Linked DNA regions of Homo sapiens. The protein of the gene in region 1 purifies or fractionates together with the protein of each later gene. This does not show direct contact. Each region holds a gene or a part of one and is shown in the gene's direction. Other genes may lie near its edges.

Evidence for each region. The genes of interacting proteins can lie anywhere in the genome.
Region 2: the proteins of NDUFA5 (region 1) and SLC25A24 fractionate together in Homo sapiens (co-fractionation; one large-scale study listed by BioGRID). This does not show direct contact.

What each region holds. Positions count from the first base shown.
Region 1 is NC_000007.14:123,544,319-123,547,818, reverse strand, and holds part of NDUFA5 (NADH dehydrogenase [ubiquinone] 1 alpha subcomplex subunit 5), read left to right. Parts: intron 1-1,001; exon of another isoform or gene 1,002-1,161; intron 1,162-2,142; coding exon 2,143-2,208; intron 2,209-3,500. UniProt on the Homo sapiens protein: Accessory subunit of the mitochondrial membrane respiratory chain NADH dehydrogenase (Complex I), that is believed not to be involved in catalysis. Complex I functions in the transfer of electrons from NADH to the respiratory chain.
Region 2 is NC_000001.11:108,155,344-108,158,843, reverse strand, and holds part of SLC25A24 (mitochondrial adenyl nucleotide antiporter SLC25A24), read left to right. Parts: intron 1-1,223; coding exon 1,224-1,382; intron 1,383-3,500. UniProt on the Homo sapiens protein: Electroneutral antiporter that mediates the transport of adenyl nucleotides through the inner mitochondrial membrane. Originally identified as an ATP-magnesium/inorganic phosphate antiporter, it also acts as a broad specificity adenyl nucleotide antiporter.

The sequences.
Region 1 (3,500 bases):
CCATTGGTGACTAAAAATCACATTATTCACTATCGGTAAGACAAATTTTGAACTGTTCACCTAACACAGGCTTTTTCTGAAATGAAAGTGTCGTTGAACTTTCCTTGCCTTCTTTACCTTCACTCTCCTGAGTCTCTTATAACAGTGACCAGCTTCCCTGTTTTGTTTTTGATTTTTGGTCTCTCATATGAGTTAATTCCCTGTTAAATAATCTGTCTTAAACATGCTTATTACTTTTTCCCCTTTTCTCCCCCTTTCAGCTGTTTTTTATGTATTCACTTCTTTAACCAAGAAACATTTATTGAATGCCATGTATGGTTCTAGGCATGGAAACTTGTGCCTAGTTGGCACAAAACAGATAAAAATCCTTTCCTTCTTGGAGATTACATGTTAGTGATGGGAGACCAAAAGAAAAAAAAAAAGTAAAAACTGAGTAAAGACGTACATAGTGTGTTAGAAAATAGTAAGTGCAGTGAAGGAAAATAAAACAAGGAAAATGTGTGCCATGGTGGGGATAGGGGATGTTACACTATGTATTAATTTCGTATGGCTGCTGTAATATTCCCACAAACTTGGTGGCTTAAAACAATGTAAGTTTATTTTATTAGACTTCTGGAGGCCAGAAGTTGGAAATCAACATCAGGGACCCAAATCAAGATGGTGTTGTCAGGGCTGTGCTTCCTTTGGAGGATATTGGGTAGAATCTGTTCTTGCCTCTTTCAGCTTCTGGTGGCTTTTGGCATTTATTGGCTTGTGGTCTCATCACTGCAATTTCTGCCTTTGTGGTTACATTACCTTTTCCTTTTCTGTGTGTAATATCCCTCTGCCTCTCTCTTATAAGGACACTTATAATTGCAGTTAGGGACTATATGGATAATTCAGGAAAATCTCCCCATGTCAGCATCCTTAACTTGATCATATATGTGAAGTCTTTGCTGTATAAAGTAACACTCACAGTTTCTAGAAATTAATACATGTATATCTTTTGTGGTATTTTTCAGCCTATCATAATGCAAATTATCAGTAGTTAATCAATAAGAAGGTGTTATTTGAGCAAAGATTTGAAAAGTGGTGAAGAAACAAGTGATGCAGATACCCTGGGCCATCCAGCAAGATACCCTGAGGCAGTAACATATCACGTCTTGTGTTGAAAAGCAAAATGTATTATTTTCTCCCTCTTTATTCCATTTATTGGCCAGAAAAACACCCTGAAAAGACAAAGCCTTATTTACATATGTGGGTATATTTACAGAGCATGATTTCTGGCTCAAAAAGCTCAGTTTACTAGAAAATAACTAAATGTCATTGAATGTTCTAGGTACTATATTTATTAACATTTTGTTCTTAAAAACTTCTATTAAATAATTATATACATTACAAATGTGTAGAAAAAAAGGACTTTTCCAGAACAACAAAACCCTTGCCTCTTCCCCTTCAATTTACTACTTGTAAAGTTAATCTCTATTTGGACTTCTTTTTGCCTGTTTTTGAATTTTATATAAATGAAATCATTAGTATGTACTGTCTTATACATACTGTACTCTGGCTTGTGCTTAATACTGTGGTTAAGAGAATCACCTATATTGTTGCATACAGTTTATTCATTTTCATTGCTGTGAAGTATTATATCCAAATATTATAATTAATTGATCCATTCTATTACAGATGATCATTTGGGTTATTTCTAGTTTGGGGCTATAATTTGTGCTGCTGTGAATATTCTCAAACATGTTTTTTAAAAAATATATTATGCATTTCTGTTTGGCATTATGCCTAGAAGTGTAATTTCTGGGTCATAGAGTAGCATTTATTTCTAATTCTAATGCTCTCAGAGGAAATACAGGAAATATTAAGAAAGCAAAGTCATATTTTAAAATCTGTTTTAGGAAGACTGAATTTGACATTGTATTTCTGTCCCTTGATCAGCATGTCAATAAACATTTAGCACTTTTCAATATTAAGACAGAAAAGCAATGAAATAGCAGAGGTGAAATGAATTTTCACCAAATATTTAGTAAAAAGAGTATGATGAAAGAAAAGTTGTATTTTTAAGTGTTTTTATATAGGAATTTTAAAATATATAGGATATTGAAACATTCAGTTAGTATGCTTCTTTAATTTTTTTTCTCCCTGAAATTATAGGAACCAGATGTTAAAAAATTAGAAGACCAACTTCAAGGCGGTCAATTAGAAGAGGTGATTCTTCAGGTAAAGAAAAAGTTGACTATTTAGGTGTTTGGTTTCATAGAGACACACAACTGACGTTCTAGAATGAAAGGAAAACTAAATTTCCTTGTTTATATCAACTCGTCAAATATGTAAGACTAATCACATATAGAAAATGTGGTGCTTCTCATGTGTATGTTGATTATAGTATTTATTGTTGATTATAGCATGAATTTATGAGACTTCTGTTAGAAGCCTGGAGTTTGACACTCTTTTAATTTAATTAGCATGTTCTCCTTGGCCTAACCTTAGTTTAAATTGGTAGCACAATATTACTGTTGTTTTAATAGTTGTATCTTATTTTAAGAGTGTGGCATATTTTTAGTAGGGAAAAATACAGACATTTTGAATTATAAAATTAAAATGTACTTTTATTTTTATTTTTGGTTCTTGAGCATTTGAGCAAGTTAAAAAACAATTGCATAGTATATTTGAGAGCTTAATTCTACATTATTTCCCAAATACTAACCCTGACAAATAATATTGAGTAGTAAAATGTAAGCATGATTATGAAGAGACTGAGATTAGAAAAATTATTAACATTATTAATTACATTTAGAATATTTAAATCTTAAATTATTCTATTGGGAAATTTTCTTCTCCTCTCACTATACCTGCTGCTTATACAAGAGAACAAACACCGCAGTTTAGTTTTATTTAATCTGAATTTTAATTCTTTTCCTTTGGTCATAGTTAGGTTATAGAAATAGATAGGTTACTGATGTAAATAGGCTGGAAATATACTATTTTGAGTATTCCGTAGTTGGTTTTTTAAAGCATCTATGGGAAAATAATGATAACTCTTTTTTTTTTTTTTTTTTTTTTTTTAAGATTTGCATCTTTTTTCTCCAATTGCTAGTAAGGTTAAACTTTAAAAATATGTTCTTATATTTTATAAATTATGTCATTAATATTTTTACTGGGTCATTTAGTCTGGGTTATTTATACATGAGTGTCTTTTTATAATAAAAGATATTAACCTTAAACTTTTCTGACATTGTCTGCACATACTTTTTCTAGCCTGCTTTTGCCTCTCAAATGGGGTTTTTCCCCCATATGTAGAGGTTTTCAATTTTTTTTTTTTTTTTTTTTTTGAGATGGAGTTTTGCTCTTGTTGCCCAGGCTGGAGTGCAGTGGCATGATCTCGGCTCACCACAACCTCCGCCTCCCGGGTTCAAGCAATTCTCCTGCCTCAGCCTCCTAAGTAGCTAGGATTACAGGCATGTGCCACCACATCCAGCTAATTTTGTATTTTTAGTAGAGACAGGGTTTCT
Region 2 (3,500 bases), on another chromosome or scaffold:
ATTTTTAGTAGAGACGGGGTTTCACCGTGTTAGCCAGGATGGTCTCGATCTCCTGACCTTGTAATCCGCCCGCCTCGCCTCCCAAAGTGCTGGGATTACAGGCGTGAGCCACTGTGCCCGGCCTTTTTTTTTTTTTTTTTCTTTATGGGCTTGTCTTCTACACTTCAGATTTGACTAAATTAAATATGCATTAAATGAAGTCAGGAGTTCACATTGCCACTAGTAACAATGCCTAAGCTTACATAAAGCATTATAAAATTGTTGGTGATTAGTGCCTTCTCAGCTATGAGTATAAGATAATATTATACTAGTAGTTCAGTTGCCTAGATAAATTGTACACTATGTGAAGTTTTATTTACATAATTCTTACGGTATTTTTTAAGGTAGTTGATAACAGTTGAGACTACAATTGTATCTCCATTTTATTGATAGTAAAATGAAGGAAGGGAGGGTTACTACCATAGGAGAGCTCCTCCCCGTTGCACTCTTGCCTGTAAAAATTTTTCTGCCAAAACAATTTAGATAATAGAATTGTAAAAATATTATTATAGAATTGTTTCTCTCAAACTATAGTAATGTAGAATAGGTTGAAGGGGTGATGATTTGAAACAATACCTCTCCATTAGCTAAATTTTATATAGAATCTATTGCATGTTTTAAATGATAAGTCAGATTTATAAAAATATTTTTATAAACAGTAGGAAATGAGTTTAGGGGTATTCACATACAGTTTTAATTTTTATTTACATATTTAAAACATATCATGGTATAAATATGATGTGGATATAAATTTGAGATAAAGGAAGTATTGTTTAAGAATTGATGAACGAATTTCTTAAAAGATGTCATCACCAGTTGGTTTTCTAGCCTTATGAAAAATGGTTGCAATAAAAAAGATTGACTATGATAAAATGCTGCCCTTTCATTTTAACCTAGACCAAGAGAAAACATACTGTGAATCTATGATGAATGAAAGAAAGTTGTAACTGTTGGTTTTGTATATTTGTAATTACTGTTTATTTTCATTTCTTGTGAACTGATACTGTACTTTGTTCATTGTGAGTAGACAACTTATAATCTATGTACTCAAATTGGTTTAGTATAAATTCTAGGGAATGAAGTTCATATTAACTGTAAAATAACATGATTCTTCTCTAAAACAAAACGTCTTCTGGGATTATTTTTAACTAAGGCGCATGGGGATCTTTTTTTCATTTTTACAGGGAATTGACATAGGGGATAGCTTAACTATTCCAGATGAATTCACGGAAGACGAAAAAAAATCCGGACAATGGTGGAGGCAGCTTTTGGCAGGAGGCATTGCTGGTGCTGTCTCTCGAACAAGCACTGCCCCTTTGGACCGTCTGAAAATCATGATGCAGGTGAGCTTTATTATCGTGTGTCCAGGTTTGCCCTAAATATTCTAAAACAATGAGAAATGTGGTGCTTTGAAAAAGAAGTTTTAAAATTTCTCAGTAATAATCTTTTATACCCTAAAAAATAAATCTATTTTGTTGCTGTTAACTCTAAATTCAGTCCATGTAAGTATGGCAGTGTACCAAACCTTAAATTGTTAGTACATGTGTGTAATGAACTTTTAATCTTTGGCATTCTATGACTATTCAAACATTTAATTCAAAAAATATCTCTAGCTATTGTTGTAGGATTCTCCTGATTTATAGTTTCCTTCTTTTTAATATACTTTATCAAAAGTAAAGTATTTTTGAAATCTAGAATCTTAGAGCAGCAATGTAATTTTGAAAATTATTCTAAAGCTGAGGTTAGCAGAAAAAGATCTGGCTTTATAGACTGACTTTGCTATTTACTAGCAGTGTAGCATTGGGCTGGCCAGAGTGGAAAGAGGGAATGGAAAAGAATTAATATGTATTTGCTCACTGTGGTAACCCAGTTAATCCTTGCAGCAGCCCAGTGAAGTAGGTATTTTATCATTTTTCCAGGGGGAATCTGAGGCCCAGAGAATTGACTTTTCCTTTACAACAAATGAGAGGGGGAATGCAGTATCTTTGCCTCCAGTGCTCCTGGTTCTCATGCTGCATGAAACCTCTGAGGTCTCATTTTCCTTCATTCTGGGATGGGGATAAGAATATCTAATAAGAATGGTTTAAGAATCAAGCAATATCAGGTATGTGATAATGTCTGGTACACTGGAATAACCTATTGGAACATAGTAGTTGTTTACAAAATATTTTTAAAACTTTGTTATACTTATGGTCAACACTTTTTATATTTGTCTGTAGATTTCTGTACAAAAAGATTCTGACACTGTTTTAAGCCAGCATTCCTTCAGAATGTACCCAAATCTCAAAATTTATTTAGGGGCAAAGCTAATGCTTTAAAGAAAAAGGAGAGGGGATTGGTGTGTGTTTTTCTTTAGGAACAGTAGTAACTTGACTTTTAGAGAACTTGAATAAGCATTTATTTTTTCCTTTGTCCTATTTTATTGTGAAGTTTATTTATTTAAAATAAAATGGATTTCTCTGGAATTTAGTTTCTGCAAATTTGAGGAGTTTCCAAAGTCAACCTTCAGGTTTGATACTTCTCTAGAAAGACTCACATAACTCACTGAAAGCTTATTACCCCTGGTTATGGTTTATTACGGGGAAAAGATGCGGATGAAAATCAGTCAAGTAAAGAAGCACATAGGGCAGAGCTTCTGTTGTCCTCTCCCTGTGGAGTCTCCATGTCTTACTTTCCTGGCACTGTTATGTGGCACTAGGCATGGAATATTGCAGACCAACCAGGGAAGCTCACCTGAGCCTTTGGTGTGCAGAGTTCTTATTGGGGCCCGTTTTCATACTGGCCACATGGCTGGCCTTCAGAATTCAACCCGTTCTGTGAGTGTGTGTGTGTGTGTGTGTGTGTGTGTGTGTGTTTAGTGGTAGTCACCCCTTTTATGTGAGCTGAAACAATCAGAAGAATAGCTGATTTGTTTAATTATTTTTGGTGTATTGGACTTAATCAGTTTTTATCTGTAGGTGGTCATAAGGTACAGTATTTTTAAGTGACTACCACATCTGTAGTATAAGCCAAGTAATTTATCAGTACTCACAGGATGGGTACATGTTGTAATGAATTTATTGCCTAGAGAGGGCCTCAAAATATGCCAAAGAGGGTGCAATTTTTATTTTTGGTTTCAGGCTGTATGCATTCCAGTGTTGGTAGCCCTGATATACACAATATCCAAACCATTTCAGACCCATTTACAGTTCATGTCTGTACTACTTCTTGAGGAGAGGGAGTAACATATTACTTTAAATTATATGTAATAATATACATACATTAAATTATATGTAATAATATAATATTATTATCTGCAGTATACTTTTTTATTTCCCTTTAACTGAGCCTGTTCATGTTTCAAAGGGTGTTCCATTGCCTGATACATAATTTAGTTAATATTATCTTATGAAGGTTGTTCATAATTTTAATACTCTTCTTGTCTTCTCTCTCTGCTTTCTCACACTGAAGATACCAATTAT